Linked DNA regions of Homo sapiens: all the other regions are linked to region 1. The links come from fine-mapping of genetic effects on gene expression. A gene starts in region 1. Each other region holds a variant in brackets. All regions are shown on one strand. Distances are from middle to middle. Region 1 holds the start of ADGRA3 (adhesion G protein-coupled receptor A3). Region 2 overlaps ADGRA3 (adhesion G protein-coupled receptor A3). Region 3 has its middle 170 kb from the start of ADGRA3. Region 4 has its middle 90 kb from the start of ADGRA3.

Region 1 (8,108 bases):
TGAAAAAAAGAGAGGACAAACCTTTGCCTATCACAGCAAGTTTACACTTATGCGTGCCTGCAACATTAGCACATCCCAGCACAGCTATTCTGTCCTTGGCATTTTTAATTCCTATAGAGGCTGTCTCATCTGCCACCGTCAGTGTCTTTCTGGGGCAATGATGCCAAAATAGTGATGTTTCGTCAGCATTATAGACGTGCTCTGGTATCCAGTTTTCATCAGCGATGATATGGGCAAACTCATTAATGACTTTTTCCACAGCTTTCTGATCTGCAGATGCTTTATCACCACAAATCCTTAAACATTTAGTGCTGTGTCTTTGCTTAAATATCTGCAACCAGCCTGTTGAATAGTCACAGTTCCTTTCAATTTCAAATTCATTGTGATAGATCTTTGCTTGTTTCATGATCAGCATACCATTAAGTGGCATGTGGTCACTGTGATGCCGATGGATCCACTTTTTCAGTGCACAATTGAGATCTTCATATTTTGCATCATACAGTGTTTTTCTATTTTTCATTTACTTGTGTTTATCGCTTTTAGCATAGATCTTCAATTTATCCTTCTGTTTCTTCAGATTATACATGGCGGTCATTCTGTCACCATACTTTTCTGTAACAAATCTCATACCCATACCACTGTCCAGTTTCTCTAACAGCTGGACTCTGTTGCATAAACATAATAAATGCTTCCTCTTTTTATCACTGATAACCACAGATTAACTTCAGGCTTCTTTGATATTTCTTTTTTTTTTTCTTTTGTTTTTTTTTTTTTTTTTGGAGATGGAGTCTTGCGCTGTCACACAGGCTGGAGTGCAGTGGCACGATCTCGGCTCACTGCAACCTCCACCTCCCTGGTTCAAGCGATTTTCCTGCCTCAGCCTCCCAAGTAGCTGGGATTACAGGTGCCCGCCACCACACCTGGCTGATTTTTTTGTATTTTTAGTAGAGACGGGGTTTCACTATGTTGGCCAGGCTGGTCTCAAACTCCTGACCTCGTGATCCGCCCGCCTTGGCCTCCCAAAGTGCTGGAAGTACAGGTGTGAGCCACTGCACCCGGCCTGATATTTCTTTATACTAACAATAGCTTTACACCACAGAGCAAAGAAAAGGAAAACAAAAACCAAAAAACAACAAAAAAGCAAACCCACAGTGAGTAATGCACGTAGATGAAGGCCCAGTGTGGGCATTGTGGGGAACTTGTCGTTGGCAAATCCAGCCTGCATGCATGCCATTTGATTACCTTTGGGGGGCACGCTTGCATGGGGGAATTTAGGCATGCCCTGAAAAGATATATAGCAGCAGAAAAGGGCTGGGAGGGGCTTTTTTCCCTTGGGGATGCTAGTAAACTGCATAGTGTGTCTGCATTTTGATGGTGACCCATCACATGTGACCAGGTGTGGAATTTTGCACTTGAGGTATTACTTGTCGGAACTCAAAAAGTTTTGGATTTTGGAGCATTTCAGGTTTTGGATTTTTGGATTAGGGATGCTCAATGCTCAATCTGTAGTAAGGTTTTATCTTAATCAAAAAACAGATCATTATTTTGTTAGGGAATAATAATTCTTCAGATAAATTCAAGAGAAATGTGATCCATTTCACCCACCTTAACACAGAGGCACCAGTGTGCCTGCTAAGGTTATTTATAGATCCGAAGTCACTTAATGGTGCAGATAATCTCCCACTTTTTCTTCCCATCATAGTGTCTGGGCTTATGTTGTTCAACACCAACAGGGTAGCCACTGGGCATTTAAATTCAAATGTAAATTAATTAAAATGAAATGAAAAATTTAATTCTTATTGCACACTATCTACATTCCACACACTATGTAGCCACAGTTGGCCACCATATTAGACAGCAAAGAACTAGAACAGCTATACAATCACAGAATGTATTATTAGACAGCACTGGACATGGTTGGGTTGGTCAAATGAACTGCTATTCAAATTTAATACAACACTGATAAATGATAAATGGAGACCATTTATTTACTTCCCATTGAGAAAGCTCTAGCCAGATAAACAGATTCCTGCAAATTGGTCCCTAAGATAAATTTTGTAGGGGCCAGAGGCAGTAGTGTCCTTAGACCCAAGCAAGAAAAACCGTGTTCTAGGCCCTCCATTTTAGAGGACACCAACCTGACTCTTCTTATGGGGTGAAAAATCTCCAGGCCAGCACCCAAAGCCTGGGTACCCACTATGTCCCCAAGACCCAGGACCCTGGAATTCCCTGACTGGTATTACCAAAGCCACTTCTTGGCCCTGAGCTAGCTTCTTCTGAGAACTGTCCTCCCAATGAAGGACCCAACAACTGGTATAGGCACACCTGAGATCCAGACGCAGACAGAGGGTGGCTGTTAGAAAGTGTGAACAGAACTTGGTTTTGTGGGCTGCGGTGTTCACACACAGGTACAAAAAATCCCCTCTTGTCCTTGAAGATAGCTGGGCACAGGAAGCAAAGACGGTGAAGGTGTACAGGCCAAAGGTTTGGATCTGACTCTTTCCCACCTGCCATGTTTCAGGGAGAAACTCCAAGGTGTCTGAGAATCCTGCTTACAAACCTTCCAGGTTGTTATGAAGGTAATTTCTCAAGGCAGGAGCACAGAATATATTTTATTAGCATGATATAGTCCTTGTAAAATTTTAAACATAGGGTAGGTAAGCCCTGGGCTTGCAAATGTTAGGGCGAGGCTGGAAGTCAGAGTAATCAATTCTGTTGGGGTTTCTTGGAGGGTTTGCTCATTATTGCTCGAACTGGTGAACATCTCAAGTATCTTTGCCTGTCGAATTTCTTTCAAAAGGCTGCCTTTCTAGTGAGGTCCAGATGCATCCTTTAGAGACCATCGCTGTTGTTGCTGAAGGCCAGAAACAGCTTCAGATTGTTCACTGTATTGAAGAGGAACCTGTTTACTGGCTCCAGTGTATTTGGGACAAATAAGACTACCATAATGAGGTGAGAAGGCGATTCCTTCCGAAACACTTGGTTTTGGGTACTTTTCCCATAGGGTTGGTCAGGGAAATTCCCTACTCTCGTCCCTACTCCATCCTCCGGGCCAGGCTCCTTGGGCCACATGGGCAGTCTCCAGGAGCGCACAAGACTGCTTTGTCCTGTGCCCGCGGTGCGAGCGCGGTGGCGGCGAAGGGAAACGAGCAGGAGAGTGGCCACCGCGGGTGGAGTTTGGACTCGAACTTTCCTCCGTTCGGACTCGAACTTTCCTCCGTTCTCTCTACGAGTTACTGCCTTCCCGCGGGCTCCCCACAACTCCTGCCCGGAGGCCGAGGCCCGGGCGCGCACCGGGTCGGAGTCGGGCTCGGCAGGTCCCGGGAGCGCGCGCCTCCTCCCCGAGGTCCCGGGCAGCTGCAGACACGGGGAGAGCAGGAGAGCCGGGAAAGAGGAGGGGAAGGGGCGGGGGCGGCCGCCGGCGGCGGGCGGGGAGGAGCCGCCGCGCGCGGGTCCTGGCCAGGGGAGGAGGCAGTGGCGGCGGCGGCGGCGGCAGAGGAGGAGGAGGAGGCGGTGCTCGCGCCGGGCGGTAGAGCGGCGCTGGGACCCATGCGGCCGTGACCCCCGGCTCCCTAGAGGCCCAGCGCAGCCGCAGCGGACAAAGGAGCATGTCCGCGCCGGGGAAGGCCCGTCCTCCGGCCGCCATAAGGCTCCGGTCGCCGCTGGGCCCGCGCCGCGCTCCTGCCCGCCCGGGCTCCGGGGCGGCCCGCTAGGCCAGTGCGCCGCCGCTCGCCCCGCAGGCCCCGGCCCGCAGCATGGAGCCACCCGGACGCCGGCGGGGCCGCGCGCAGCCGCCGCTGTTGCTGCCGCTCTCGCTGTTAGCGCTGCTCGCGCTGCTGGGAGGCGGCGGCGGCGGCGGCGCCGCGGCGCTGCCCGCCGGCTGCAAGCACGATGGGCGGCCCCGAGGGGCTGGCAGGGCGGCGGGCGCCGCCGAGGGCAAGGTGGTGTGCAGCAGCCTGGAACTCGCGCAGGTCCTGCCCCCAGATACTCTGCCCAACCGCACGGTCACCCTGTGAGTATCTCCCGCGACGCTGGGTCCTCTCCCGCTCGGCTCTTTCTTATCTCTCCGCTCAACTTTGGAGCAGGGTCCAGCCGGCACCCACGCGCCTTTGTGTGGAGCTGTAGGCAGGGGGCGGTGCTAGGAAAGACCTCGTGTGCTTGGCATGGGTGCAGTTCAGGGAAAGGCAAGGGAATCTGCGTCCGAGCTGCCTCCCAGCTCCACTAGTTTGCAAAGTAAAGTTTTCGGGTTCTCAGGCGCTCCCCGCGCTGTCCCCGGCGCAGCGCTTTTGGGCTGCGCGGTGCCACGTGAGGATGCAAGTAAACACGCAGTCAACAGAGTTAAAGCTCATTCATCCTGGGCTTGGGTTTCCAGAAAACACAATGCTTGATTGCAAGCGCCAGTCCTTCTGCTTCTTTGCAAATTAAGTTACACTTACGTGGTAGAGTTTGCAAAACACAAGGACTGTGTGCGAGCCCAAACCCCAAGACGCTTCCTTTGCCTTTTGCTATCTTAGTTTTATTACAGTTAAAGAGCACCTTTTAAGATAGAGTTGTTATTAAGGGCTGGAAACATTTCAGATCAATCTGTTTATGTACCTTGCAGTCCCGTTTTCGTGTCTGTGAGGGCTTATATTTAAAAGCCAGGAACATTGGAACTGAAAACCGTGGGTTTATTGAGCCTTCCAACTCGAGGGATTTTTGATTTTCGGATTGAGTTTCCACCTGGAAGGAAAAATTTTGGTAACTCACTTGTGCTGGGATTCACGGTTCAGTTTTGCAAACGTAGTTTTGCCAATTCTAGCTGAACAGTTGGCCCCAGTGACTGTCGAGTTTGTTTTCAGAAGGATGAATTGGTTTGGAAAGTTTTGAGTCTAAGTGTTTCTCATGGGTATTTTGTTCAACTGAAATGTGAGTCCCTTGGCTCGGGGTTCCTCTATGTTGTTTTGGTTGGTTTCCTAAAAAAAGAATCAAGGCAGCCACTATACAAACATGAATGCAAGGACCGCAGCATGATCTATGAAAACACTTAAAGTATGGTTTTAAATGTAACCCAAATTCAGCAGGAGTATACACAGGTAGGCCAGGTATACATTTCATTACTAACACTTTTGTTTACCTTCATTTCCATTTTTTGAATTAGGAAACGTTTAACCATGAAAATTGTGTCTATGTGTCTATTTATGGAGGCATGAAGATGGATGAAAGAGTTTTTGTTTTATTTGACTCCGTTACTAACACGTTACCATGTGGTGGTGGCAGCAGTTATATTTATTTATTTCTTAGTCAGATTCTTTGAAGTGGAAATTTTCGGTATGGGACTTTAATTACAGTCCAAATGGAGAAAATCCCAATGTTGGAGGAGATTTTCTTTGTTACTCTGCAAAAATTAGTCATCATGCAGTTATGTTATAAACATTTAGGTTTTGGGTCAATGAGTGACATTTACGTTGACTCATGTTTAGGTCCAGTTTTTCTGACCTAAAAGTGTCCACAATTTCAGCTGGATTAGGTCAACTACTAGTAAATTGTTGATTTTGCGTTGCAGAAAAAAATAGGGGATATGGTGGTAAATTGATTTTCAGCATATTACCAATTAAACTATTTTTCTACAATTTTTAGAAACTGGTTAAAATATAAGTAACTATGAAATGTCATTTCAATCCAGTTTTTTTTTTTTTTTTTTTTTTTTTTTTTGCCTGAAAGCTTTTTAGATGAAAATAAAGTTAAGGTTGGGCATGGTGGGCTCACACCTGTAATCCCAGGGCTTTGTGAGGTCAAAGCGGGTGGATCCCTTGAGGTCAGGAGTTCAAGACCAGCCTGGCCAACTTGACGAAACCCTGTCTCTACTAAAAATACAAAAATTAGCCAGGCGTAGTGGCGTATGCCTGTCATTCCAGCTACTTGGAAGGCTGAGGCAGGAGAATCACTTGAACCCGAGAGGTGGAGATTGCAGTGAGCCGAAATCGCACCACTGCACTCCAGCCTATGTAACAGAGTGAGACTCCCATTCAAAAAAAAAAAGAAAAAAAAAATTTGTTTAGTGAATGGGAAGAAGATACAATTAAGGATCAATTAAAGCTGTTCTGCTGGTTGTGGTGGCTCATGCCTGTAATCCTAGTACTTTGAGAGGTGGAAGTGGGTGGATCACCTGAGGTCAGGAGTTCGAGACCAGCCTGGCCAACATGCTTAAAGCCCCATCTCTACTAAAAATACAGAAAATTAGCTGGGCGTGGTGGCGTGCACCTGTAATCCCAGCTAGTCGCTACTCGGGAGGCTGAGGCAGGAGAATTGCTTGAACCCAAGGAGAAGGAGTTTGCAGTGAGACAAGAAGGCACCATTGCGCTCCAGCCTGGGTAACAAGAATGAAACTCCATCTCAAAAAAAAAAAAAAAAAAAGAGGAAAGTTGTTCTGGCTGAAGAGGGTTCAAGGTATATGAGGCCCCCTGTAGAGGGGTCTTATGGGCCAGTTTCCTCATTTTACTGGGGAAAGAGTTAGAGTTACTGTAGATAAGGGACTTGCTCACCAGAATTCTCATAGTAGCATCAGAGTCCACGTCCCAGATTCCTGTCCTGCAGTTCAGATGCTTTCTCATTCCTCACCTTGCCTTCATCTTAGTTGAGCACAGTTTTTGTTGAGTGGCCTCTAGGTAGTAGGTAGCGTGTTGAAGTTTGGACTGTGTGTTAGTGCCTAGGGCTGCTGCAGATTACTACAGGCTTGGTGGCTTGAAACAACAAATTTATTCGCTCATAGTTCTGGAGGCCACAAACCCCAAATCAATCTATTAGCAGGGCCATGCTCTCTCTGAGGACTTTAGGAAGAATTCATGCTTGCGTCTCTCATCTTCTGGTTTTCCTTGGCTTGGGGCAGCATCACTTAAGTCTCCGCATCTGCCTTCCATTGGCCTTCTCCCTGTGTGTCTGTGTGTCTCAAGTCCTCTCCTTTCTCTTATAAGGATACCAGTTACTGAATTTAGGGTCCACCCTAGGTCCAGGATGATCTCATCCCAAGATCCTTTAATTAAATACATCTGCAAAGACCCTGTTTACAAGTAAGATCACGTTAAAAGGTCAGGACTTGGACATTTCTTTCTATGAAACACTGTCCAGCTCATGACAGAATACAAATAAAAACATGCTCTTTCTTCTCCAGGAAATTACAGATATTTGGGGAGAAAAATTCATGACTAAGTCTCAGAACAGTATGGTCAATGCTCTATTACCAGGGTGCACATGTAGCAAAAGAAACCCAGAGGAGGGCAACCAGGGCCTCCTTCTCCCTCAATCCTAGTGGGATTGAGGATCCTGAGCCAATTCTGGAAAGAGGAAAAAGATCACTGTGGGGCGGGCGCAGTGGCTCACACCTGTAATCGCAGTACTTTGGGAGGTTGAGATGGGCAGATCACTTGAGACCGGGAGTTCGAGACCAGCCTGACCAACATGATGAAACCCCATCTCTACTAAAAATACAGATATTAGCTGGATGTGGTGGCTTGCACCTGTAATCCCAGCTACTAGGGAGACTGAGGCAGGCAGGAGAATCGCTTGAACCCGGGAGGCGGAGGTTGCAGTGAGTGAAGATCGTGCCACTGCACTTCAGCCTGGGTGACAGAGTGAGACTCTGTCTCAAAAAAAAAAAAAAAAAAAGAAAGAAAGAAAAATATAACTGTGAAGAAAACGGTGAGGGAACAAGGGGAGGAAATGATAGGTTGGAAGTGGGGGACCCCAGGTGCCCACGGGTTTGGAGAGGACAGTATCTGGTTATGCTGCTGTGCAGTTGGTGTTACCGGAATGTCAAAGGTAAGTGTCTGGTGCCCAGGGTGGTCAGAGGAGTCTGTAGGGGCTGAGTCGAGGATGGCCAGGCTCCCTGGTTTGAGCCTTTATCACTTAGGTGTGGCCAGGTGTTTTCAGCTGAGTCGTGATGTGGCCACAGAGAGGAAAATTAACTGATGGGAACTGGGAGAATGGCAAAGATGGGATATAATTTTTTTTTAAATCATGAAAAATAAAGCCATTTCTATTTAATGGATGAACTGGTCTTCATCATAGCCTAAAAGTCAGATCCTTCAACAGTATTGATGAACACCACTTGTTTCTGTAGCTATGCTTAA
Region 2 (8,108 bases), 82 kb after region 1:
TGTAGATTAGGTATTGATCTATAATATTTATAGTACATGCTTTTAAGTGAAATATATGATATTTGGTAATTTTGTTACATTCAACATCTTTTATCAAATAATCCTAATATGATATTTACTATTTATGGTAGATTTTCTATATTCTCATAGTTTTGAGTGCTTTACATTTTTAAAAATAGAGCAATTAAATGTTTATAGATCAATGAATTATTTGTCTTTGACACTCCTTAAGATATTATGCAATTAAATTCCCACTGCATTAATAAGATTTAGTTTAGTGTTGCTTGATCTATTTATGTGGTTTTTGTAATGAATTCTGTTTTGGTGTGACTGATACTGTCATTTAGTGGTTCCTGTGATGAGCATCCATGGTAACTTGTATTAAACATGTTGAATTTCATTCTCAGTTTTGGAGACATAGAGTTCAAATAACAAAGGTTTCTCCCAGCCCAGTTTTGATGACCCGTGTCAGGGTTGTATTGACATGACACATCTTCATCTTTGATTTTTTTCTCTGCTGTTGTTATTCTTGATGTACCCGTGTCATTTAGATTTTCTTGTACTATTTTGTCTTCATCTCTAGATGGCCCAGAACATTGGCAGGCATTACTGCATATCTGCAGTGTACGCGGAACACCCATGGCAGTGGGATATATCCCGGAAACCCACAGGATGAGAGAAAAGCTTGGCGCAGATGTGATAGAGGTGGCTTTTGGGCAGATGATGATTATTCTCGCTGTCAGTATGCAAATGATGTCACTAGAGTTCTTTATATGTTTAATCAGGTAACTAGAAAGTCTTCATGTTTACTTGGGTTGTGGAGAAAACATGGTATTCAAACCAAATACATAAGTTTTTTTTTTTTTTTTAATACTAGGCAAAACATAAGGATTTTGTGTTTTTACTTTAGTTGACTTAACTGTCTTCAGGATCAGGTCCATCTTAATCACTAGTCAAGGCCCTCTATAGAATCCTTCCTTTGCAGTCACCATCTCCCTTTGTGCCTTTGTTTGAATATCTTTTTTTTAATCTGTATCCACCAGACAGAATCCTAACCATCCTTCGAGTTCACATTGAAAGCCACCTCTTGGATTCATTTTATAATCACTTTGTTGAAAGCGATTGCTTAGAATACTTGAACTACTCATGTGCTTTTTGTTATCTTTGCTTCTATGCATCTTTTTAAAACTTACCAGACTATAAGCAAGTGGAAGATGGCTTTTGTGTAATGTATTTTCTTTTGCCCCTTAGCACCTGGTAAAAATCCTTTTGCAATGTTAGGTGCTAAGTCCGTGTTAGAGTCAGTAGATAAACACATGTAAAACATTACTGGCAGTGCATGGCAATAAAGATAAGTGCCAAATAAGTAGTTCGTACTCTTGTGCAGTAGGAGCTCCAAGGGAGGTATTGATCATTCCCAGCAGGAATACTCAGGAAAGGCTTTATTAAGCAATTGGAGTTGAGGTATGTGTAGAATTTGGATAGGCAGAGAAGAGATAGATGGTGCAACATGTTAACCTCATGTATTTTTATGTATTATTGTATTTCACTCCAAGCTTGAAAAAATTTCCCTCCAGTGAGTTTCCATTAAAATTCCAGTTTTCTTGGGTTTGTAAAGCATTTTAAGAAGGCCATGATGAGTAAATAATAAAGTTTTTAATTCGTTGCTGTTTTGAAATGCAAAGTTAAAATGTCAGGATTGTGTTGATCATTTTGCTAATGACTGTTTTGTTGATCATTTTTGCCTTTGAAATGTAGATGCCCCTCAATCTTACCAATGCCGTGGCAACAGCTCGACAGTTACTGGCTTACACTGTGGAAGCAGCCAACTTTTCTGACAAAATGGATGTTATATTTGTGGCAGAAATGATTGAAAAATTTGGAAGATTTACCAAGGAGGAAAAATCAAAAGAGGTACTTCTCTAAATTCAGATTTGTAGCATACAGTGTCAACAAATGGTAGTGTGACAGAGTTCAATCTATGTATTTTAAGGCCTGTTTATGTTTATCATATTTGAGCTAAAAGCATGCTTTTAAATTTCCAGAATTTTATTGAGATACTTCTGCCTCTTCTCTTATGACCTGTTTGCTGCTGGGACCGGGAGAGGTGAACTCTCAGTTCTTGGACGTTAAGGTCCAGAGATACAGCAGAGGTCGCTGGTGAGAAAGCAGTAAAAGCAGTGTTCTGCCTCCACGTTGTGGCTTAGGCAGAGCTGCTTAGCTCAGCCTGCTGGATTTCTCTTCTCCACATATCCTCGTGCTCATCTTTTGTAACGGGAGTTTTAGTCACCCAGATCTTGTAGTAAATTCCTTTTAATTGTCCTTGTAATGTCCTAGAGAAATGAGAGGCTGTTTAGGCACTTTTTTGAAATTCAAAATGATTGGACTATACAAGTTTTAAAAAATGCAGTGAATTCTAAAAGTGGCGTATTTTAACTTAACGGGACCACATTGAAACCATGATATGCTTGTCCACATGATATCTTTTAGGGGAAAAAAATTGACAAGCACAGTTTACAGAATGAATGAGCAGCAAATTAATGTTTTGAATAATTTTCAAGGGGCAGAATTATTGTGTTCTTAAACTTTACGTTTAAAGCTTCGTGAGAACTTTATATGTACAATTTCTTTTGTGATATAATCACTTATAAAGAAATTAATTATAGAGGTAGAGGGAACCTCAAGCAAGTTGTAAACTGAAGCCCACGCTTAGGTTAGGGCACGCCTGGAAAGAGAACCCAAGATCCCTGACTCATCCATAAGAGTTTTCTGTAGCATCACATTCACCTTCCCATACAATGTGGCCCTGACTTGGAACTCTAAAAGTGCTCTGTACACAACTGTGAGGAAAACACTGGGCTAAACAAAACCTGCGTATTTCTTTATGTAGAACTTCTCAGATCCATTAATATTGCTAAAATGTAAATAATAAGCCTTATTTTCCTGAATCATTCTAATATATTTTTATATATCAATTATATATACACACACTTATATATCACATATATATTCTAATATATTATATAATATATATTTAGATATATCTAATGTATATTACATATTTATGTATCTAATATAGATATATTGTTATATATAATATATATATAAGAATTAGTACTTGCAATGTGGTAATAAGTTTTTGAAACTGTGGCCCTAGTGCATTAGGCACTTTACTTGATAGGATGTAGTTATTAAAGGAAGGAAAATAGATACATGTATATAAACGGGACTTAGGCAAATAGGCCACCTCACTTGTCAGCGGGATAACATTTCATTTGTTTTCTGAACTTCAGGGGCCATGATTTTTTCTAATAACTGCTCCTGATACTTGATTGTGTCTCCAGGGCACAGCCCACTTTCCTGCAGTGAATTTTCCTTGCACTGGGAGAGGCCGTTTGGGTTCTGGCTCTGTGATTATATTGTGCTCCATTGTTGCTTAAGATGACAGGGTTGGTGCCCACAGGATTAGCAGTCATTTCCGGGAGTGGGATGTTTCTAGTTACTAGAATAATTGTAATGACATTTGGAATGTGGACATGGAAGAACATTCGCCATCGAAGAATACATGTTTATGATGTGAACCTGTTTTGCTCACCTCCCAACTTGAGCAACGTGGTGTCCAGAGGTGTATGTTGAACTGTTTGCCAGCCTGTGGAAGAGTGGTCGGCTGCGTTGACGGGTTCTTAGGTGGAAGCATTGTACTGAACTGGAAGTAGACATGGTTTCATTAGTTATTAATTAACCATGGGCTTATTCTTCATTTTTCAAATGGGGATGCTATTTTCTCTGTATAATTTGAAAAGTGTATGTGCACAAATACAGGCGAACAGTTTTGCAAAATAGTTGCAAAGCTTGGATATCATTTTATTAGGTTATGAAATATAACATTTTTATGACCTCAGAAGCTAAGAAGGAAGTCCTTTTAAATAATCATGAGTGCATCAGTTAGTTCTGTAAAAATTTAGTGTGAAGAAGATTGCTGTCACTTTTACTGGTTAACATAGGACGGAAAAGTTATGTTATCTTCGGAAGCAAGTGATGGCAACTTACTAACTGTCAGCACGAGAAACAGGAAAATATTCAGGATTGAATAATTGAGATATAAATGTGATAATATTGCGTGTGATGCAGTGACTGACATACAGTTCTTTGGCAATTTGAACCACAGGCCATAGCTTTCACCATTTATTAGTGTAGTGAAAAAAACTAGGAGGCTTGAGGGCTTCATTTTAAGTTAATTACCACAGCATAAAATTATGCCAAGTTATCCTAAAATGCACCTAGCTTAGATAGAGAAATAATTAATTAAATTGATTTTTGTATTATGTCTGAAAGTTATTCTTTTATGAGTGATTTCATAACAAAAGTATTGTGGGGGAATTGCTTTTTAATCTGTGATTGAGCCTGGCCAACACAAGCTGGCACTTTGTTGTCTCAGGATAGGCATTAAAAGCTCTCAAACTGCCAGATCTAAGTGATATATTTAGTGGATCCTTTTAAAAACAGTTAAAGGTTGTCTTGTCAGGCAACAGAAGTGTCTGTTATGTATTTACTAAAGTGATTTTTCTTATGAAAACAATATGCATATTTTATAAGATG[G/A]GAAAGTTAAATATAAAGATTAGATCTGATGATGCTTTCTGGCACCCTTATTGTCTCTTATTTTAAAATATGTGAGTGCGATATGCGCCTTACACTAGTTTATATATAGATTTTTACAAATATATGGCTTTTTCATTGATTTTAAAGTGTCATCGCTTCTGTATTGACAATTATGATTATTTTGTATTCTTTTTTTTCTTGATCTTACTTGCCAGACTTTTCTGTATTATTAAGCTTTTCTAGGACTTTGTTCGTAGAACTTCACCACACATCAGAATCACTTGCTGGATTTGTTATACGCAGTGATTGCTGCCTGAGTTCCCCCTCCCTGCCATTCCCAGTTGCCATTTCAGCAGGTCTGAAATGGGTTCAGAGAATTTGAATTTCTAGTCAGTTTCAGGTGATGTTTCAGGCAGCATGACTTTGATACTGGCTTTGAGAACCCCTGTAACAGCTCCATTTTCTATTGTTGCTTTAATTTTTTTTTAGGTGGGGGGTTTTAACTTTTTAAGAACTTTTTCTTGGAAAATTCAAAAGGATAGGAGAATATTATCATTAATACCTATGCTGTACCTCTGCTTGGCTTCAACAGTTTTCAATACAGCAAGCCCTCACTTAAGGTCATCTATAGGTTCTTGGAAACTGCAACTTTAACTGAAATGATATGTAATGAAACCAAATTGACCATATGCTAATTGATGTAAGTAAAACTTATAAAATCCCTAGAGATCATTTCTGGTCACAAAAATGTCACCAAACTTCCAAATAAAGACCCCAAACATTTCTAATATTAAACATTGAAATAAGTATGAGCCATACACATATTTAAGAAAGATTAATAAAAACAAGACAATTATTTACCCATTGTGTTAGTTTTCACTCTGCTAAAAATGACATACCCGAGAGTGGGTAATTTATAAAGGAAAGAGGTTTAATTGACTCACAGTTCAGCACATCTGGGGAGGCCTCACAATCATGGCAGAAGGCAAAGGAGGAGCAAAGTCATGTCTTACATGGCAGCAGGCAAAGAGAGAATGAGAGCCAAGTGAAAAGGGAAACCTCTTATAAAACCCCTTATAAAACCATCAGATTTTGTGAGACTTATTCACACAACAGCGGAGCAGTCAAATCTTAAAGCTCCAAAATGATCTCCTTTGACTCCATGTCTCACATCCAGGTCACACTGATGCAAGAGGTGGGTTCCCATGGTCTTGGGCAGCTCTGCCCTTGTGGCTTTGCAGGGTACAGCTCCCTCCCAGGTGCTTTCACAGGCTGGCATTGAGTGTCTGTGGCTTTATTGTACCCTTGTACAATATTGTTATATATAATATATATATAAGAATTAGTACAAGGCTTTTCCAGGCACACAGTGCAAGCTGTTGGTGGATCTATCATTCTGGGGTCTGGAGGACGGTGGCCTTTTTCTCACAGCTCCACTAGTTGGTGCCCCAGTAGGGACTCTGTGTGGGCGCTCTGACCCCACATTTCCCTTCTGCACTCCCCTAGCTGAGGTTCTCCATGAGAGCCCTACCCCTGCAGCAAACTTCTGCCTGACGATTCAGGAATTTCCATACATCCTCTGAAATCTAGGCAGAGGTTTCCAAACCTCAGTTCTTGACTTCTGTGCACCCACAATCTCAACACCACGTGGAAGCTGCCAAGGCTTGGGGGTTGCCCCCTGTGAAGCAGCAGCCCAAGCTGTACCTTGGCCCCTTTTAGTCATGGCTGGAGCAGCTGGGATACAGCTGCTAGACACCAAGTCCCTAGACTGCACACAGCACATGGACCCTGGGCCCAGCCTATGAAACCATCACAGGCCTGTGATGGGAGGGGCTGCGGTGAAGACCTCTGACATGCCCTGGAGACATTTCACCATTGTCTTTGGGATTAACATTCAGCTCCTTGTTACTTATGCAAATTTCTGCAGCCCGCTGGAATTTCTCCACAGAAAATGGGATTTTTTTTTTTCTATCACATTGTCAAGGTGCAAATTTTCCAAACTTCTGTGCTCTGCTTTTCTTATAAAATGGAATGCCCTTTACGGCACTCAAGTCACCTCTTGAATGCTTTGCTGCTTAGAAATTTCTTCTGTCAGATACCCTAAATCATCTCTCTCAAGTTCAAATTTCCACAAATCTCTAGAGCAGGGGCAGAATGCTGCCAGTCTCTTTGCTAAGATGAAACAAGAGTCACCTTTGCTCTAGTTCCCAAGTTCCTCATCTCCATCCCAGACCACCTCAGCCTGGACCTACAAGCCTCTAGGAAGTTCCAAAGTTTCCCACATTTTCCTGTCTTCTTCTGAGCCCTCAGACTGTTCCAACGCCTATTTGTTACCCAGTTCCAAAGTTGCTTCCACATTTTTGGGTATCTTTTCAGCATCGCCTCACTCTATTGGTACCAATTTACTGTATTAGTCCATTTTCATGCTACTAATAAAGACATACCTGAGACTGGGAAGAAAAAGTGGTTTAATGGACTTAAAGTTCCACATGGCTGGAGAGGCCTCACAATCATGGCAGAGGTCATGGAGGAGCAAGTCATGCCTTACATGGATGGTGGCAGGCAAAGAGAGAGCACTTGTGCAGGGAAGCTTCTCTTTATAATACCATCAGATATCGTGAGACTTACTATCACAAAAACAGCATGACAAAGACCTGCCCCCATGATTCAATTATCTCCCACTGGGTCCCTCTCACAACACTTGGGAATTGTGGGAGTTACAATTCAAGATGAGATTTTGGTGGGGACACAGCCAAACCATATCAATAAGTGTTGGTTGGTTGGGAGCATTAATGAGAAAGGTCTAATGTATCCTTAACTGTGATATTTGCTTGCTTCTGCCGAGTGCCAGTGTAGGGGGACTCATTTTAAAATTAATTTTTAGCTTGAGGTTTTTAAGAACACGAAAGTAGTATAAAGGACCTGTTTGAAGGTCAACTTGTGTTTCCAAATTGTCAGAGAATAATTTTTTTTTTTTAACCTCCTTCTACCTCTTGCCCAGGTCAAAACAGGCACGTTTCCTGGCTCTCCTTCCATGAAGCTGAGTGATTGCTGGCTAGGCCTGATGCTGGAGGTGGTGTCCTTTGAGTTTCTAGCTTTGTAACAGGGGGTCTTTTCCTGGTACCCTGTGTTGGCATGGCCTAGGCCCTGTGTGGAAGTCAAAACATACCTCGTGGTCATCAGAGTTCAACCTCAGAGCTCTTTGGATTTCTGCTGTTCTTTGGTGACTGGGTTTTGGAGGAGGATCTATTTTCCTACTTCTCAGTGATGCATTAACAAAGATAACTGTTTTCCTTTCAGCATTTTTTCACTTTCTGCTGGAGAGTTCTCCAGAGTACTCAGTCCTCTGTACTTCTAGAAAAGGAAGTGCACGTACGTGTTTGTAATCTCATTTATTTCAGTAACACCTTAGGGTAGAATCAGTATTTTGGCATGTTTTATCTTTTAATATATTTAATATTTACAGATTAGCACAATTACAACTAAATTTATTGTTCAGTTTTTTTTAA
Region 3 (8,108 bases), 170 kb before region 1:
AGATGTGTGTAGATGTGAAAGCAGATGTGTGCATACATGCATGTATGTGTGTATACATGCATGTATGTGTGTATGGTTCACACGTGTCTGTGTATCATAAATCCCTGCACATAAAGGAACTTCAAAACCTTTACTGGATATTTTTTCTAGTTGTCTTGAATGCTGGCCCATATCACCAGCCTGGAAATGAAGATAAATGTGAGATAATTAATGGCAGGCTCAAGTGGGATTCGATTGCATTATTTGCATTTAGTTATTGAAGGCTATGCACCTCATAAGATTTAGCATGAAAGAAATCTAAAACAACAGCAGTACATCACTCAACCTTTCAAAAAGCCATACTGCTGTATAATTAAGGATTTGCTATTGAGTAATTTTCAAAACAAACAAAAATGCTCTGCCCTTCAAGGTGTTGACAGGCTGACACTAACAATGGCAAACAAGTAATCATAAAACCCACTCAATACCACACAAAGCTCAACTGTTGAGCCTAGTGCTTTAAGAATAAACGGCAGTCAGTAGAGGCAGGGCCCTTGGAATCCCTTTTGGGTGCCTTCCAACAAACACCCATAGCTGTGGAATCGAGTTCCAGCAGCAGCATCTTTCAGGACGTTATTCACAGTGCAGCTGCTAGAAACTCTATTTCATTGATCTGATTCGGATTCCTCAGATATGTTGTTTCCACAAACTTGGACTTAGCCAGTTAGGTCATCTTCCCAATAAAAAAACTCTCCCTTGAAACAAGCTAACTCCGTTGTATTCCTACAGAGTATCTGGAGAAGTGTTCAAATGAACTGAGATTATGGTGAGACAAGTAAGGTTCCTCGGGGGCAAAATTTAGGGAACTGCACGCTCTCACTGCAGCTCCAGCATTGAATACCAGAAAGAGAATACTCAAGTTCAAAGGCCTTGTTGTAGACATGAACTGGTGTTATTTCTGAACTATTTGTGGCAACGTACAGGTGTGCCACATGCCTCGGGACTAGGCTGTAGCAATCCACCTAAATCCCATGAGGATTTGCACACTGGAGAGGATCTTTGATTATTAATCTTGCTTCAGGGATTGGATTTGGAACTTCAAAAGCACTTTCCTCCCACAGAAAATCAAGCAATGCATTGGAAGCCCATGATCTGGAAAGGAAGCATAAAAGAATGAAATCGAGCCAAATAAAGTATAAAAACAGAGTGAAACAGAACAATTTTGGTGATAGTAAAATTATTTTAGATCAACTAGACTGGAAAGCCAGCACAGCTTTAGAACTGGGAGAACCTGCCCAGACTTTCCTCTCTTGGGTCCATAATTAAAGACTGCTGCAGAGCCTGGATGCCATCTAAACCCTTCATTTATCCTCCTCCTGCTTCCTGCCACCTGCAGCCCCCTTACAAACACTGTGGACTCTGATTCCTTGACATGTCTTGTGTATGTCAATTTACCTTCATTTCTGTGGCCTCTTCTCTAATCAAAGTCAAAAGAAATCCCTTCAGGGCTAGAAAGGTTTAAATAGGCTCCCAACTTCCAGTTTTGTTCACATCCAACATACTCTACTGCAGCCTGAGTCCTTTCCAAAACACAAATTGTTCAGTGATTGCCTCTGTCCCTGAAGTTCAAACTTCCTGATATTAGCAAGGTCCGCATTATCAGTTTCCTGTCTCCTTCTATTTACACGCACACCAGTGTTCCTCTCATAAGCGTATTTAACTTTTTTCAGCTTTTCAAATCTACTATGATCCATGCTCTTTCTTGGGGCTGATTCTTCACAAATGATGTTTCCTGGTCTGGAACTCTTCTCTCCTTTATCTTGGCTAATCCTTATCTCCTATTGACCAGTTCAAGGTTACTTTTTAAGAACAGACTCCCCAGGACAAGCCAGGTCCCCCAGCACTGTGTTTCCATTGTCTCTTTTATGCCTTTTTGCATAACACTCATATATAACATTTTGTTTTAAAACTTGCTTAGTTGCCTGTCTTCCTCATTAATTCATAACTTCTCTGAGAGTAGGGATTGCCTTAATCAGGCAAGCTAAGAATTAAAGGCTCATTGGGTCTTTTCTCATCAATTCATTCACCAAAAATACATGGAGCATTTACTATGAGCCAGGAACCATACTAAACTCTAGAAAGACAATGGTGAGCCAAGCCAACCCAGTTAGTCCCTGAACATATGGTCCACATTTAAGTCCTCTTATAGTCTACTAATTGAAGTTCCCCAGCTTTGTTTTAATAGCATCCCATTTTTATTCCTTGTTACTTGGGGAAGAATCTAAGAGTAAGTAGACAGTTACCTCTAGTTTTCCTAGAGGTAATGCCTCCTCCCAATACCTTATAGATCCAGAGTAGAGAAACGAAATGGAGAGGCAGAGGGAAGAATCTACCGAAAACTATGGGATGTTGCCCTGCTCTGTTGTGTCCAGGAGGTCATTAATGGGGAAAGGAAACCTCTGAGAGCACTGACTGAAGTGAAATCGGGATTTAGGCTCAGGGAGCAGACAAGGATTCTCCTCAGAGGACTTCATCAGAAAAATGGAAGGTTCCTGATCTTAGCGTAGCTGATGTAAAGTTCCATCCACCCAGTGTGGTGTTCTGATGGTGAGGGGCATCTCCCTGGCTCTGCACCCAACAGAAAGTCTCTCCTCTCCATCTTCTGTAAGGCAACATTGTACTGTACTCACATTCCCTTTTTTGGGGGTCCTCTGAATTGCCCAATGGTACATGGCACAATAACAGCCCTGAACTTAACATTTCATTTCCATAACATTTGGAGCTACCATATAATCTGTTTATTTTAGTGATTATAAAAGATTATTATATTCTCATCTCATGTGTGTTGTATGTGTTTGCATTCTGACTAATGATTTTTTGCATTGTAATGCTCACATACAATAATCAAAATTCACACAACATAAGCCATATATTTGTATTATTCCTGAAATCAAGGTGAGGTCATAAAATATGCAGTGGCAGTCAAAGTCAGTGGGAGGGAGCTTGTGACAAATGCAGATTACCTTGAAAGCTTTGTTTTATGGCACACCTCTCATGTGATTAGTGGTTCACTGCAAAGACAGACATTGCACACACCAACAAAAAGAGAAAACACAAAGACATTACAACTGGGATAAAAACAAAATTCTAGTTTCTTATAATGGCAGAGTAGCTTGATGATGGCAGATTTACCCTATTGCCAACTTCAATTACAAACTCAAAAGGTAACACCAAGAACAACTTTTCGAAGGACCTGAAGATTGTGCAAAAGTGGGTAGAAACTGCAGAAGTTTCAAACCATGAAAGAAGGATTGATCATTTTTTCATTGGGGAAGTGATTTGAATATTGAGTTAGTATTTTCAAATTACGGGTGACATTTCTTTTCTAGAATAATGAGGGGTAGGGGCATAGGCTTGGGTATCAACTGACAAGCCAGACATGAGGCACAGTTTGGTTGTTTTCTAGATACGATTTAAGCTTGGGTGCATTCCTTGACCACCCTAAACCGAAGTGTTTATGTCTGTAAAACAACGGTCATCACTCCTAATTCACAGGATGGTTGCTGGGATTAAATTAGATGATACATGTGAATCCCTGAGAATAATGCCAGGCCCACAGTTGGTACCTTGTCAAAAATAGTCATGGGTAGGGCCTTGCTATTTACTCAAAGTAGTAGCTCGGCTTTCAGATGATTCTGAAGAGAGTATAACCTGGGTTAGACAGGGATTCTTTTCCTAGGAATACAACAGTTAAAATAAGCCAGCTGACAACAGGGTATGATAGGATGGTAATAAACTAGGGGAAGATTAGCAAGTTCTGTTTGTTCATATTTTTCGCTGTGTTCCTGAGTCTTCTGAGACAAGGATTTTTTTTCTCTTGATATTAGAGGGGTGCCCCTCACATGAGGGCCTTATGACCTACTTCAGGAAAAGGTCAGAGAGCGGCCTTCCCAGATTTTATGACCTGCTTCAGGGGAGAAGGCTGAGGGGAAGGTGAGAGTGACTTTCCTGTGTCTCCTGCTTTCTCAAATGTCAAGGGGTCATATTTTGAAATAGTATTGTCCTGAAATTCCATCATAACCTAAAACAAACAAGCAAACAAAAAGCATTTGTTGTCATCACTCATTTTCATATTCCAAACAATATTTGCACTGATGGGTGACAGAATGTGCCACCCCATAGTATGCCACTTTGGCATAAGGATTATTTTGATCTAAAGGCACTTAAAAAATAGCAGAAACAAAAGGACAATCGGCCCTCTCTGTACCAAGAAAAAGGAAATATTCTTGTCACTGGAGACAGGAGAGAACGCCCATGTAGAAAGATGCCTACCTTCCACCAGGAGAGAAGAAACATTTTTGTCACAAGAGACGGGCAGTCAAG[G/T]CTGAGAAAAATCTGTACAAACAGATCTTGCTATAACTTGTACCTTCCTTCAGCCTCCCTGTACATTTTAGCTACTTTTACAATTGCCATTCTTTGTTCAACCTAGTATATCAGCACTCAGGTTTTGCCACATCTCTGGGTCTTTGTTTCCTAACAGGGGCTCCCATGGACATGTAAAACTCTGCATGTTTTCCTCCTGTGTATCTATCTTATGTCAATTTAATTCTCAGGCCCAGCTGGAACCTGAAGAGAGTAGAGGTAAACTTTCATCTCCCTGCACTACCCTTGCTGCAATTAAATTTCAGCCCTACAATACAGTTTGAGAAATTCTTTATATGGTTTTGTCATGGAGTTTTCCTAATATCCTTCAGTGAGGCAATCTGAGCTATAAAAATGAGGGAGGAGATAGGGGATATTCAGGAGGTCTGACCCCTTCTATTCTAAAGCATTCAGATATTATTTTTGGAAAGACAAAAGACCAGTCTGCGTTGTCACACTTATTTCTGGATCACTCTCCCCAGCTTGAAGACAGCTTTTGTTTTATTTTTTATTTATTTATTTTTTTTTTGAGACAGAGTCTCATTCTGGCACCCAGGCTGGAGTGCAGTGCACGATCTTGGATCACTGCAACCTCTGCCTCCTGGGTTCAAGCGATTCTCCTGCCTCAGCCTCCTGAGTAGCTGGGATTACAGGTGCGTGTCACCAAGTCCGGCCAATTTTTGTATTTTTAGTAGAGACGGGGTTTCACCATGTTAGTCAGGCTGGTCTCGAACTCCTGACCTTGTGATCCACCCGCCTCAGCCTCCCAAAGTGCTGAGATTACAGGCATGAGCCACCGTGCCCAGCCAACTTTTTTTTATTTCTGCCTCTGCTGCTCAGAAACGTCCAAGTTTCAATTAAAAATGAAAACTGTTTTATGGCATAAATGCTAATGCATAAAGCTAATATTTAGTTTGAAGGGTTTTTTTCCCCCTCAAACCAACTGACCCTTAAATCAATTTTTTTAAAATAATTTGATTGTCAATCATTAAATGACAAACATTGTTGGCCAAGCACGGTGGCTCATGCCTGTAATCCCAGCACTTTGGGAGGCTGAGGCTGGTGGATCCCTTGAGGTCAGGAGACCAAGACCAGCCTGGCCAACATGGCGAAAACCCGACTCTACTAAAAATACAAAAATTAGCTGAGCATGGTGACATGCAACTGTAATCCCAACTACGTGGAAGACTGAGACAGGAGAATCATTGTTTTATCTTTTATTTATTTATTTATTTATGGTTTTTATTTTATTTTTTTGAGACAGAGTCTCAAATCTGAACCCAGGAGGCAGAGGTTGCAATGAGCCAAAATCACACCAGTGCACTCCAGCCTGGGTGACAGTGTGAGACTCCATCTCAAAAAAAAGAAAAAATATATATATTTTTTAAATAAATAAATGCATTATTAAACTTCTCCAAATTGTCTTTTTTTCCCCCCACAATGTTTATTTATTTCATTTCGCCTTTGGTCAATTGAGCTATGTCCATACTATTTTTTCTTTCTAGCTCTCTCTCATGGTATTCTTTTCTCTTCTCATGCACACAGATCTAGACTTCCAAAAACTCTAGTGACTGGAATTTTGTGGCAGCAGAAAGCAGGACACTCACCAAAGATCTTTCTCCTTCATGGCAACCACCCATATACATCTCCACCAAAAATAAAAAGCCTCACACATTTAAAAGAACTGTGATTATTTTACCTAATTTTTTGATGCTTTAAACAGAACTGTCTGTTTTGTCAGGCTGAGGAAAAAAAGATATTTTTATTTGCAATATCGTCCACAAATATGCTACATATGGTTTTTATAGCTAAAAACGCATCTTCTCCTCCAAGTGTAAATATTTTCTTGGGATGAGAAATCCAATAAAACCACAGATCCCTAGCCTTTGTGGTTGGTATAAACAGGCCCTGCTTTTTGAACTTTCAGTCTCCAAATGTGACAGCCACAGATTTTATTTTATAGGTTACTCTTTGCATTTTTAAAAAATGTGTTTGCAAGATTTATTCATCTGTGGTTAAATGTTTCCATGTCTCTGAAGTCACCTGCTAGGATCGGCCCCACTTTACATACGGGAAATCATTTATGGGAAGTGAACAATATTTCCTTTGTAGCTTTAACCACAAGCTGGCTCAGCCTCACCTTCACAATTAACTGAGTTTCCAAAATTATTTTCCTGGTGTGCACTGGGATTCTTTTCTTCTCTAAGAAATAGAGAACAGAATTGCCTTATCCCAAGCCCATGCTGTAGCTTTTAAATGTCAACAACACTTGCACTCTTCTGAAATGCTTAGCTGAGCCCCTGAGGAAGTGCGCTGTAGTATAAAGAATCCGTAGATGCAGCAAAGTTTACTTCTCCAGGTCTCAATTTTCATATGTATTCATTTCCTACCACCCTTTCCCCTTTGGCTTTTTACAAGATATATTTCCAAAATGTGGTTATGTCTTGGTGTTGAGGCTATGACAATATTTATTTTCATTTACATTTGTGCTTTTACAAATGTTGTACAATAAGTAGGCATTATATGTCAGTAAGGGGAAAATATTGTTCTTGAAATAAGACCACATGAAGAGTGGATAAATTCTACAGAACCATCAACAGACCCTGATTCTAATCATTAGTATTTTTCAAAGCAGGTTTTATGTGCATTTCTCTTCACCCAACTAGAAGACAGAAGAAAAACAGCTACACAGGCTTACTGTTCTCTCTCGAGCACTTGCAACAACTGTTTGGAATGGCAACATAGATGCATTGAGTAATAAAGTCACAACTTGCTGCCAATCATTTTGGGCTAAATAAAGCTAACATTCCAGAAGCTCTTGCCCTTCTACTACTCCTTTTTTGTGCACTTCAGCATATCATTTTATTTATTTATTTATTTATTTGGAAGGGGAAATGTTTGTAGTGCAGCTGTTCTCTGTGTCATATGACATAGCAGTTAACTACCCACAGTGTCTTGCCAGGACTCTCTCCCCCTTTTCTACAGTGGTCAGAGGAAAGGAACACCTTCATTCAGAATCATAAAATATAGCACTAAAAAGGCTCTGTTCATGGAATTTGGAGAGGAATCCTCAGTTAGAGTCATGGAGTCTTTTGAGATGGAAATGATATTAGGGGTCATTTAGTAAGGCACAACATTTATAAAGGAAGAAGAGAACCAGAGAACTGCCTGAAGGAGCTCTGTAATAAGTCATCAAAGCCAGCACTCAAGTCCAACTTTTTTCATTCCAAGTCCTATCTTTCTTTCCAGCATTTTAATTCCCCATTCGAAGACAGAGTCTATTATTATTCTTGCAGGCAGAGCATATTTCTACCTTAGAGTTCATATACCAGAAGAGCTTTGCCCAAATTTACTTTGATGTTTTAGCATGCTGGGACATCAGAGAATTCTATATTCCTTTTTATAGGCACATTCACTTGGTGGTTCCACTTTCCAATAGGCGTGTTTCCAACAACAACCAAAGGAGCAGAAAAATTACATTCCTGGCCAAAGTCTATTCACTCCATTCCTATTTTTTTTACTCCTGGCCAAAGTCTATTCACTCCATTCCTATTTTTTTTACTCCTGGCCAAAGTCTATTCACTCCATTCCTATTTTTTTTTACTCCTGGCCAAAGTCTATTCACTCCATTCTTACTTTGTTTTTTGTTTTGTTTTGTTTGTTTTTTTTTTGAGACCAAGTCTCACTCTGTCACCCAGGCTAGAGCG
Region 4 (8,108 bases), 91 kb before region 1:
TTTAAGCAAAATCTTGATCATGGGAATGAACATTTCAAGGGGAAAATGAATGGAGTTTGGTGTCTAAATATAGGAAAGGAATGAGCAATCTAAGACAAGGTTAGCGTGAGGTTCTCAGGGTTGCTGCAGAAAGGTGATACTCTTGGCAAAAATATAAAGGTTGTGGTTAAAAGCCACATTCAGTGAGTATACACTACATGTCAGGCATTACATATTTTTCAGAACCCCATTGGGTAGGCGTCATTATCTCTTACAGATAAGAGATTGATTCAGTGACCCCAAGTTTTTCAGCTGGGTATCCTATTCCAGTGATTGAGGTTGACTTGGTTAAAAGTACTGATTTAAGATCAACTTACAGTTGCAAGCATGGATGGGGGTAAAGATGTACTGTCTGGTCTTCAGAGCTACCTCTCCCCCATTTCCCAAGTTACTGGGCTGAACTGGATGTGGGATATGCATCTCACAACCTACGTTGGCTCACAGGTTCTTTTGCAAATTGGTCTATGCACCTGTAGATTCCTCCAGGTGTCCTCCTCATTCTGAAACAGTCCAGGGTGGGCAACTGGAAATACCTTGAAGAAGACGCTGAAGAGAAAAGTGCCCGGATAAAGGTAGGGGAACCTGATTAATGGAGCAGAATGACACCTGTTATTTTGGAGACAACCACCCGCAGGGTGATAAAACCCCAGAGAAAATAACTGAAATGCAGTACATGAAAATGTTTTGCTTCCATCTTTTTGATCATCCATCTGATAAGTTACTACCTAGAATATGGAAACTTGACTTTGCTAAAAATGAGTTCTATGAGAGAAGCCCAGAGAAGACAATGCTACTGATGCACCTGGAGAGTTGAAGATACTGCAACCGAACACTCAGGTGGTCTCTCACTGGTGGCAGGAAACAAATGTTCTTCTTCAACATAGAAATCACCATGGAGATGGCATTATAGAGCTAGCATCTCAGTGATAAAAAGCCGTGGGGACCAGGTTCCTTGGTCCCTGGGAGTTTATCAGCGGTTGAAAGATACCCTGAGCTTGCCCCCTTTCACCCCTGATCCAGCTAACACACACAGCTCCGCAAGGGCTGGCTCGTTCTCCCAGATTTGCAGCTGTGGAAATGCCAAGATTTAAAATAAATTTTCTTGAAAAAAACCAACATCGATGGAGTGAAGATATTATTACTACATAACCACCAAGTCTTGGTATATGTGTTTCTAACAGTAGTGTGGAGGCAGAAGTGAAGATAAAGATCCCATGAAGATAAGGAGATTTGTTGCAAGGCTGGCATAAAACCTGAGCAGATGATCACAATCTCTGTGTGGTTTATGCTACCTGAGGAGAGACCCAAAGTCCAGGCAGTGCTGGCTTACATCATTGTTTTCCAGGAGCAAGAGCCTAGTACTTTGGTCATTCCAAGTATTTGGGATTGTTCAGTAGAGCATCAGTTCTTGGTACCCAACATATATTATTTTAAATTGGAGAACTGAAGCAACCAAAGGTGGGGTGATGTCCTCATTCATTCTAACTAGAGTTGACTCTGGCACATTTGGCTACCTCAAGGTAACTCGGTACAAAGGATTGTATTCACTTGGATCTGATAGCAAGGAAACACTCCTATAGTTACAGATGTGATGTCACTGAGAGGCAAGCATGGGTTAGGTAGTGAGAGACATACTATTTTGGAGTTGGACAAGACTGGATTTTAATCCCATCTCCAGCAATTAATTGCCCATTGTAAAATGCTAAGTTTAATAAAGATATGATCTCAACCACCTGTCAGAGCCGGAGTGAGGATTAAATTCAATTATTTTGTGCAGCACCTGGTGCATGTAAAGCCCTCAGTCCATACTCATTCAAAACTCACTCTTACCACACAGCCTCTCCCTCCAGCCTTGCTTCAGGAGGTCTCCCGTAACTGAGGGAGAGTGGAGCCCCTGGCGGGACTGGAGACAAACAAATGGACTTTCCTTGCCAATTGAAATAAAGACAACCCTCTTTGCTCAGGAGGAAGCAGGCTCCAGGGACTTGGGAATCTCAAAATATGGTCATGAGTCACAGGTGAGACAAGAGGGTCTTCCCACAGGTCTGTGAATTAATCCAGAAGTGCAAGTCTTTTCTTTGGTTTTTACAGATGAATGGTACCCAAATCCATACACTCTCAACTTGCTACAGTACTGGCTATAGGTGAGTTACTAGTGGCCTAAAATGATGGAAGGCCCTAGGAAAATTCCCTGTGTGGCACTTGAGACTTCCTTACCCCTTCTGTGGACAGTCGTTATCCCTTGTGTGGGGAGTAGATGGAATTAATAAGCTGTGATATTATTTCTGGGCAAGGTGCAATAAGACGTGTTTGTTCCTCCCAAGGTGGAGATTACAGAATTGTAGTGAGGGAAGGGGGTGATAATACAGCATCCAAGGAATGTTTAGAGAGTTATACTTGCCTGCTTTTTGACATGTGTGTCTCTAGAGAAGTCTAGGTGGACTCCTGTCCATCAACATCTCAATGTAAAAGAGCATTGCTGTTGGATGTCATCACCAGTCCCCTTCCAGGTCCCTGCAGCTATTGTGGTTAGCATTGCTGTTCCCATGGCTCAAGTGGCTTTGGACTAGTAGGTAATGGGTGGGGGAAGAAACAGCTCCCCTCCCCTCCCCCACCCCACCCTACCCTGTGTATATTCCACTTCCTGAGACTTGGGCTATGCCTACAGGAAGTAACAGAAACCGTTGGTGTGCCCCTAGCTCCCTCCCCTCTGCCAACTGCACAGTTGCACTTACTGAGGCTGGGCTGCAGGTGGCAGGCACCCCTCTGTGATCCTGCCATGGCCAGAGGAACTCATTCTACACCAGCTCTTGGGTGTAAAGTTGTACGGATACTGAAGACTTCCATCCTCAGGCCAAAAGGTCAGGATCAGTGCAGCTTATACCTGCGCTCACAAAGAAAGAGAACAAAAGGAGAGTCCGTGGCCATGGCTGCCTCCAGTACCCATTTAATTGGCATCTTGAATCAAGTAGAACTGTTTTTAGGAGAAGTAACCCATTTTGGAAACCCCAAAAACCTTCAAAACTTAGAGTTAATGAAATAATATTCTAAAAATAAAGTTGATAAAATGTATCTGAATGCATGCATACATAGACCTTGCAAATATCCATTTGATGCTCGCTTAGTTTCGTTAGGGCTCTATTCACTCTGACCTCATCATATGACAACCCACTTGACTCCTGTCTTCCCTTCTGTCCTTCTACTTTGCTGCTAGTGTAATTCTATATTCTTCATTTGCATTCTTTCTCAGAATGAAATCCTGAAAAGCAACCCCATTCGGTATGGACTCAGAATCCCCATGGCATGATCTGATACCACAGGCAATCTCTCTTCCTAACTCAGGGCCCAGGTAACACATGGTAGTGCCAGAGTGTGAGCTGCCTGCTCTCCGGTGAGGGTTAGACCAGGCTTTGGGGAGCTGCCTTGAGTATAGCTGAGTTGTCAAATATGCAAGTGACATAAGCCAGAGGGGCCTGTGTGTCACTCAAAGGTGCTGACACAAGCCAATCTGATCTGGGACCAGTAAATGTTTAATCCAGTGAGACGAATAGAATGCATTCCTGCCAGTGCCCCTACTGCTCTTGCACATGGCAATGCTGCTCCCAGGACTCAAGTGGCTTTGGACTAGCAGGCATTGGCATGTTGGGCAGGGTTGGGGGCAGCTATATGCTGCTTCCTGGAAAAGGACTGTCACTTACATCACAGCCCCCAGCTTCACCTTATCTTCACTCAGATGCCCTCTCAGACTCCTATTCTGCTACTTTTGTGCCTCCTCTTCTCTCTTCATCTCGCTCTCTCTCTCCTCCTACCCCTTAATAACTGACCACTCTCCATATTTTCCAGTCTACAGCCCAAAAGGGAGATGGACACATTGTTTTAGCTAGTTACTCTCTACCCACTTGGACAGTGTCTCTTGCTCCAGGTCCCCTCATTGGTTGCCCACTGGCCTATGGATACTATTAATTGAATTAGCATCCACCTCCGTCACTGCTTATGTGCACAGGGCCTGTTCCCATGGTCATCTTAATCTGAAGTTGGGAAAGCAGCATTATAAATGATGTGCCCAGTACTTAAGGAAAATCAGAGAAGAAAGGCATAGAGACAGGATGCATTCACATTTTGGAGAAACCTACTATATGGCAGACACTATATGTCAGGTACTGTACTAGGTACTTTATAACTGCATGTATCTAGTTAATACTCAAAAAGACTTATCTTTTCCCAGTATCAGAGTTTGCGAATCAGAGGGCTGATATTTTAGCATGGCTCCGGGTTAAAGGGTCCAAAGAGGCCTCCTGCCCAAAGTTAGGATTGCCTTCTCTGAGCAACAGAATTCCCACAAATCTGTGTAGTCTTAGCTGAACAGGATTAGGGTTCCATCTAGTTGTAGTGTGTTCCTTTTCTCAGCCTTGTTTGTGTGCATAGACACAAACATACACCATGGACACTTCCAAAGGAAGAGTGAGTATAGGAAGACACAACTGGGATCTCTTACTATGGTAAGACAGAGTGTTTGGGGTCCTGGATCCCAGCCAGTGCCTTCACT[T/G]ACATTTCAACATTTCCAAAATAGTTCTTGGAATTTCCACTTTAAAAATGAGAAAACAGACTCAGGAATGTTAATGGACTGTCTGTAAGAGTGCTAGCTGTGCCTTCCCATATTTATTCATCTCTTAACATTGTCTTGCACTCTAGCCAGACTTCCAACCAACTACCCACACCTGTGACTCTACCTGAGTGAGTCCACCCTGCCCGCCTGTAGAGCAGACTGGAATTGCCACAACTCTCCCTGCAGAAACCTTCAACCACAGCTGATAGTGTAGCAGGACGAGCCGCAGACAAAACCTCTCAGACACCGAGTAGTAGAAGGAAGGGCTTTATTCAGCTGGGAGCATCGGCAAGCCATTGCCTTAAAATCCGAGCTCCCCGAATGCACAATTTCTGTCCCTCTTAAGGGCTCACAACACTAAAGATTTCACATGAAAGGGTCATGATTGATTTGAGCAACCAGGTGGTACGTGACAGGGGCTGCATGCACCGGTGGTCAGAGAGAAACAGAACAGAGCAGGGAGTTCCACAATGTTCTTCTATACGATGTCTGGAATCTATGAATAACATCGGTTTCTAAGTTATGAGTTGATTTTTAACTACCGGGTTTAGGCCAGGCAGACCCAGGCCCGGTTTCGGGCCTGGTGCCGGGCTGCCTGTCTTTGGTTTTGCTTCCTTGTTGTTTTTTCTTAAAACAGGTACTGAGTATAAAACAATATAAAACAATATGAGAGGGTCTCTCTCTTCCCTCATTCCCCCCTTTTGAGACTCTCACTTTTTATTAGTGGGAGTTCTCACTCTTATTTTTGCTGCTTATGTCTCTTTGTGTAATAGATTGATAGTGATTTATATAGTACACTTGTGTTGATGCATTTTGGTGAACTAAGGTAATGATGAAGCTTTTTATCATTTGAAGAAGTACAGATAGTAAACAAGGGAGCAGTAAGCAGGTTCTTATTACTATTATTACTTTTATTATAAGAGTTTTAAATCCTCTTATTGCTGGGAACCAATTTTTAAACATGGCTCCTGGATTGAGTCCGTGTCACACTTGCATGGTTACATGTGCCAGTTTTGTTATATTTTTAACTATATTTTTAACTACTTGCCTTTGATTATCTATGTGTAGACAGTAATTAGTAAGGTTAAATTGTTCACAAACTTTTCCTTCAGCTGCTAGCAAGTAGTCAAGAGCTAGTCTATTTTGATAGATAGCATTTTTCATCTGAGTCTCTTGCCGGGCAAGAACAGTCAAGGCTTAACCAGTTTTATTAGTAATAATTTCTAAAACAGCTTGTAACCGTATGATTTGCTTGAGCATGTAGATGGGGGTCCGATATCCCCATGAGCCATCTTGTATCCAAGTGGCGGGTCCATAGTATTGTATGATTTTTTTTTTAGGAGGCCATTTATCATTTTTTAAATTACCTATGGCTATGCTTCGTTTTCTCTTTTTTTTTTTTTTTTTCCGGGAAGCATAGACTGGGAAGCCCCGAAGTTCACCTGTCTTTATGGACAGTAAGAAGAAAGATGGCTTAATGGTGCCAGTTACACAGCTACCTGTCCACTGATCAGGCAGCTTAGCATAAGCTTTGTGTCCACATATCCAGTATAACCCGGTGGGGGCCATCCAGTCCCGGTGGAATTCTGGATGGGCCTAAACAGTCTGCAACTTTGGAAATTTCCTGAATGGATTTATTTCTGTGTAATTGGAACTCCACAATGTAACTGTTTTTGTGGTACTGTTATGCAGCTTTTGCCCAAGACAACTAAGCTGCCCTACAGGATGAATGAATCCTTTTTCTTTTTTAGCTATGTAATACTGTCTAATAATTGAGACTTTTAGAATCTAGAGATGATCAGAGTGATCTTTTGGGCTGGGAATTCATCAGGAACTGGGTCTGTAGGAACCTATTCTCGGGCTTCCTATGGCCATTGATCTCCTGTTACGGTCCCTCTACAAACATAACATGAGGTGACTTGTAGAGACTGGGCTACGTGTTCGGCTAATTGCAAAAACAAATTTTTAGTTTTTCTTGGAATCTCAGGTACTGGCACATTTAGTTTATCATAGAAAGTCTGATATACTGGTTCTGGAGAGCGTTTTTGAACCTCTCCTTCTATTAGGATGCTTACACTAGGATCTAGTCCTTTTCCATCAATGCCTAATGTTACATGTGTTTTTAATTTTACTTTGGGTCTGAGGGGTTTGTGATTATCAGTTTTAAAAGGCTGCAACTCCCACTCATGCAGGAGGGGCTGACTTTTCCTTTTTGGAGTCAAACAGGATTTTATTTTATTTTTTTTTAAGTAGCCCAAATGACACAAGACCAATATTGACACATCTCACATAAATATGATTTTTGACAGATGTACTTATTTTCTGCTGTGTAACTTTTTTTTCCAATCTAGAGAACCGCATCCTATCCCATGCTGCTTACTATCAATAGCAGCACAACCATCAAATTTTAAGGTTACATTTTTGGGGACCCCTCTTTCTTCTGTTTTAGCCATTACCTTACTTGTGTCACCTAGAAAAGGACCAGTCCTTAATTTTATTTTAAAAACTGTGATCATGGGATGCTTAAAATGGGTCATAACACGCATCAAGTTGGTTATTTCCTGGGCTACATACCTTGGATAGAATAGCATTTTACAGACAAGTTTCTTTCAGAGTCCTGGTACACTTACAATAACCATAAAATAATAGGACCGTAGCAATCTTTTGTCCTACCTCAGTGACTTCATGTATATACTGGAAACAGTTCTCAGTCTGAGGAAGGTCAGTTGAAGTCCTTATTGTACAAGTCCAAATTTTAAGGAAAATGAGTCCCGCGATGAGTTTCCTCATGTTTCGGCCGTGTGTGGAGCAGTCAGCTTCCGGGTGTGACTGGAGCAGGGCTTGTCATCTTCTTCAGAGTCACTTTGCAGGGCTTGACGAAGCTGCTCCCATCCACGTACAGCTCCCAGTCTACTGATGTTTAAGGGTGGTCTCGGAGGTTGGGCCTACTAGAATAAACTGAGTCCAATACTTTTACACAGTTATGTTTAACTGGGCTCTCTGATGCCAGGAGTAAGGTGGCAGGGTTAGGGTTTTGCAGACTTTAAGGGTTATGCGGGGATTTTCACAGAGCAAGCTTTGGTATCTAGTTAATCTAGCATTTATTAGCTAATGATGTCCTTTGGTATTTATTAAAATCACCACAGCATGGGGAGACTTTCTGTTTAGGTTTTGCCTAAGAGTTAGCTTGTTTGCTTCATGTGCTAACAGGGCCGTTGCTGCCAGGGCCCTTGGACATGGGGGCCAGCCTATGGAAACCCTGTCTAGTTGTTTTGAGAGATAGGCCACTGGCCTTGGCCAGGGCCCCCACATTCCGGGTTAAAACTCCAACTGCCATTTTTTTTCTTTCTGACACATAGAGTGTGATGAAGAGTTTTGTCAGGTCAGGTAGCCTCAGGGCTGGGACCAACCTGAGTTTTTTTTTAAACTCATGAAAAGCTTGTTGCTGTTGGTTGTAATAGAT

The links. PIP is the estimated chance that this variant, and not a neighbour inherited with it, causes the effect.
Region 2: its variant is fine-mapped to the expression of ADGRA3 in sun-exposed skin (GTEx, PIP 0.96).
Region 3: its variant is fine-mapped to the expression of ADGRA3 in whole blood (TOPMed, PIP above 0.99). The same link has a PIP of 0.9 or more in blood mononuclear cells.
Region 4: its variant is fine-mapped to the expression of ADGRA3 in lung (TOPMed, PIP 0.94).

What each region holds. Positions count from the first base shown.
Region 1 is chr4:22,511,432-22,519,539 of GRCh38, reverse strand. It overlaps ADGRA3 (adhesion G protein-coupled receptor A3), which reads left to right and starts at 3,474. Exons shown (of 19, transcript NM_145290.4): 1 at 3,474-4,012. The coding sequence starts at 3,756. It overlaps MIR12115 (microRNA 12115), which reads right to left and starts at 4,228; the gene lies at 4,155-4,228.
Region 2 is chr4:22,429,117-22,437,224 of GRCh38, reverse strand. It overlaps ADGRA3 (adhesion G protein-coupled receptor A3), which reads left to right. Exons shown (of 19, transcript NM_145290.4): 9 at 584-785; 10 at 1,759-1,914. Among named protein-coding and RNA genes, the nearest start is that of MIR12115, 82 kb to the left of the region's middle. The variant G/A (reference allele first, on the strand shown) is at 4,600.
Region 3 is chr4:22,678,824-22,686,931 of GRCh38, reverse strand. No RefSeq gene overlaps it. Among named protein-coding and RNA genes, the nearest start is that of ADGRA3, 170 kb to the right of the region's middle. The variant G/T (reference allele first, on the strand shown) is at 4,363.
Region 4 is chr4:22,602,213-22,610,320 of GRCh38, reverse strand. No RefSeq gene overlaps it. Among named protein-coding and RNA genes, the nearest start is that of ADGRA3, 90 kb to the right of the region's middle. The variant T/G (reference allele first, on the strand shown) is at 4,586.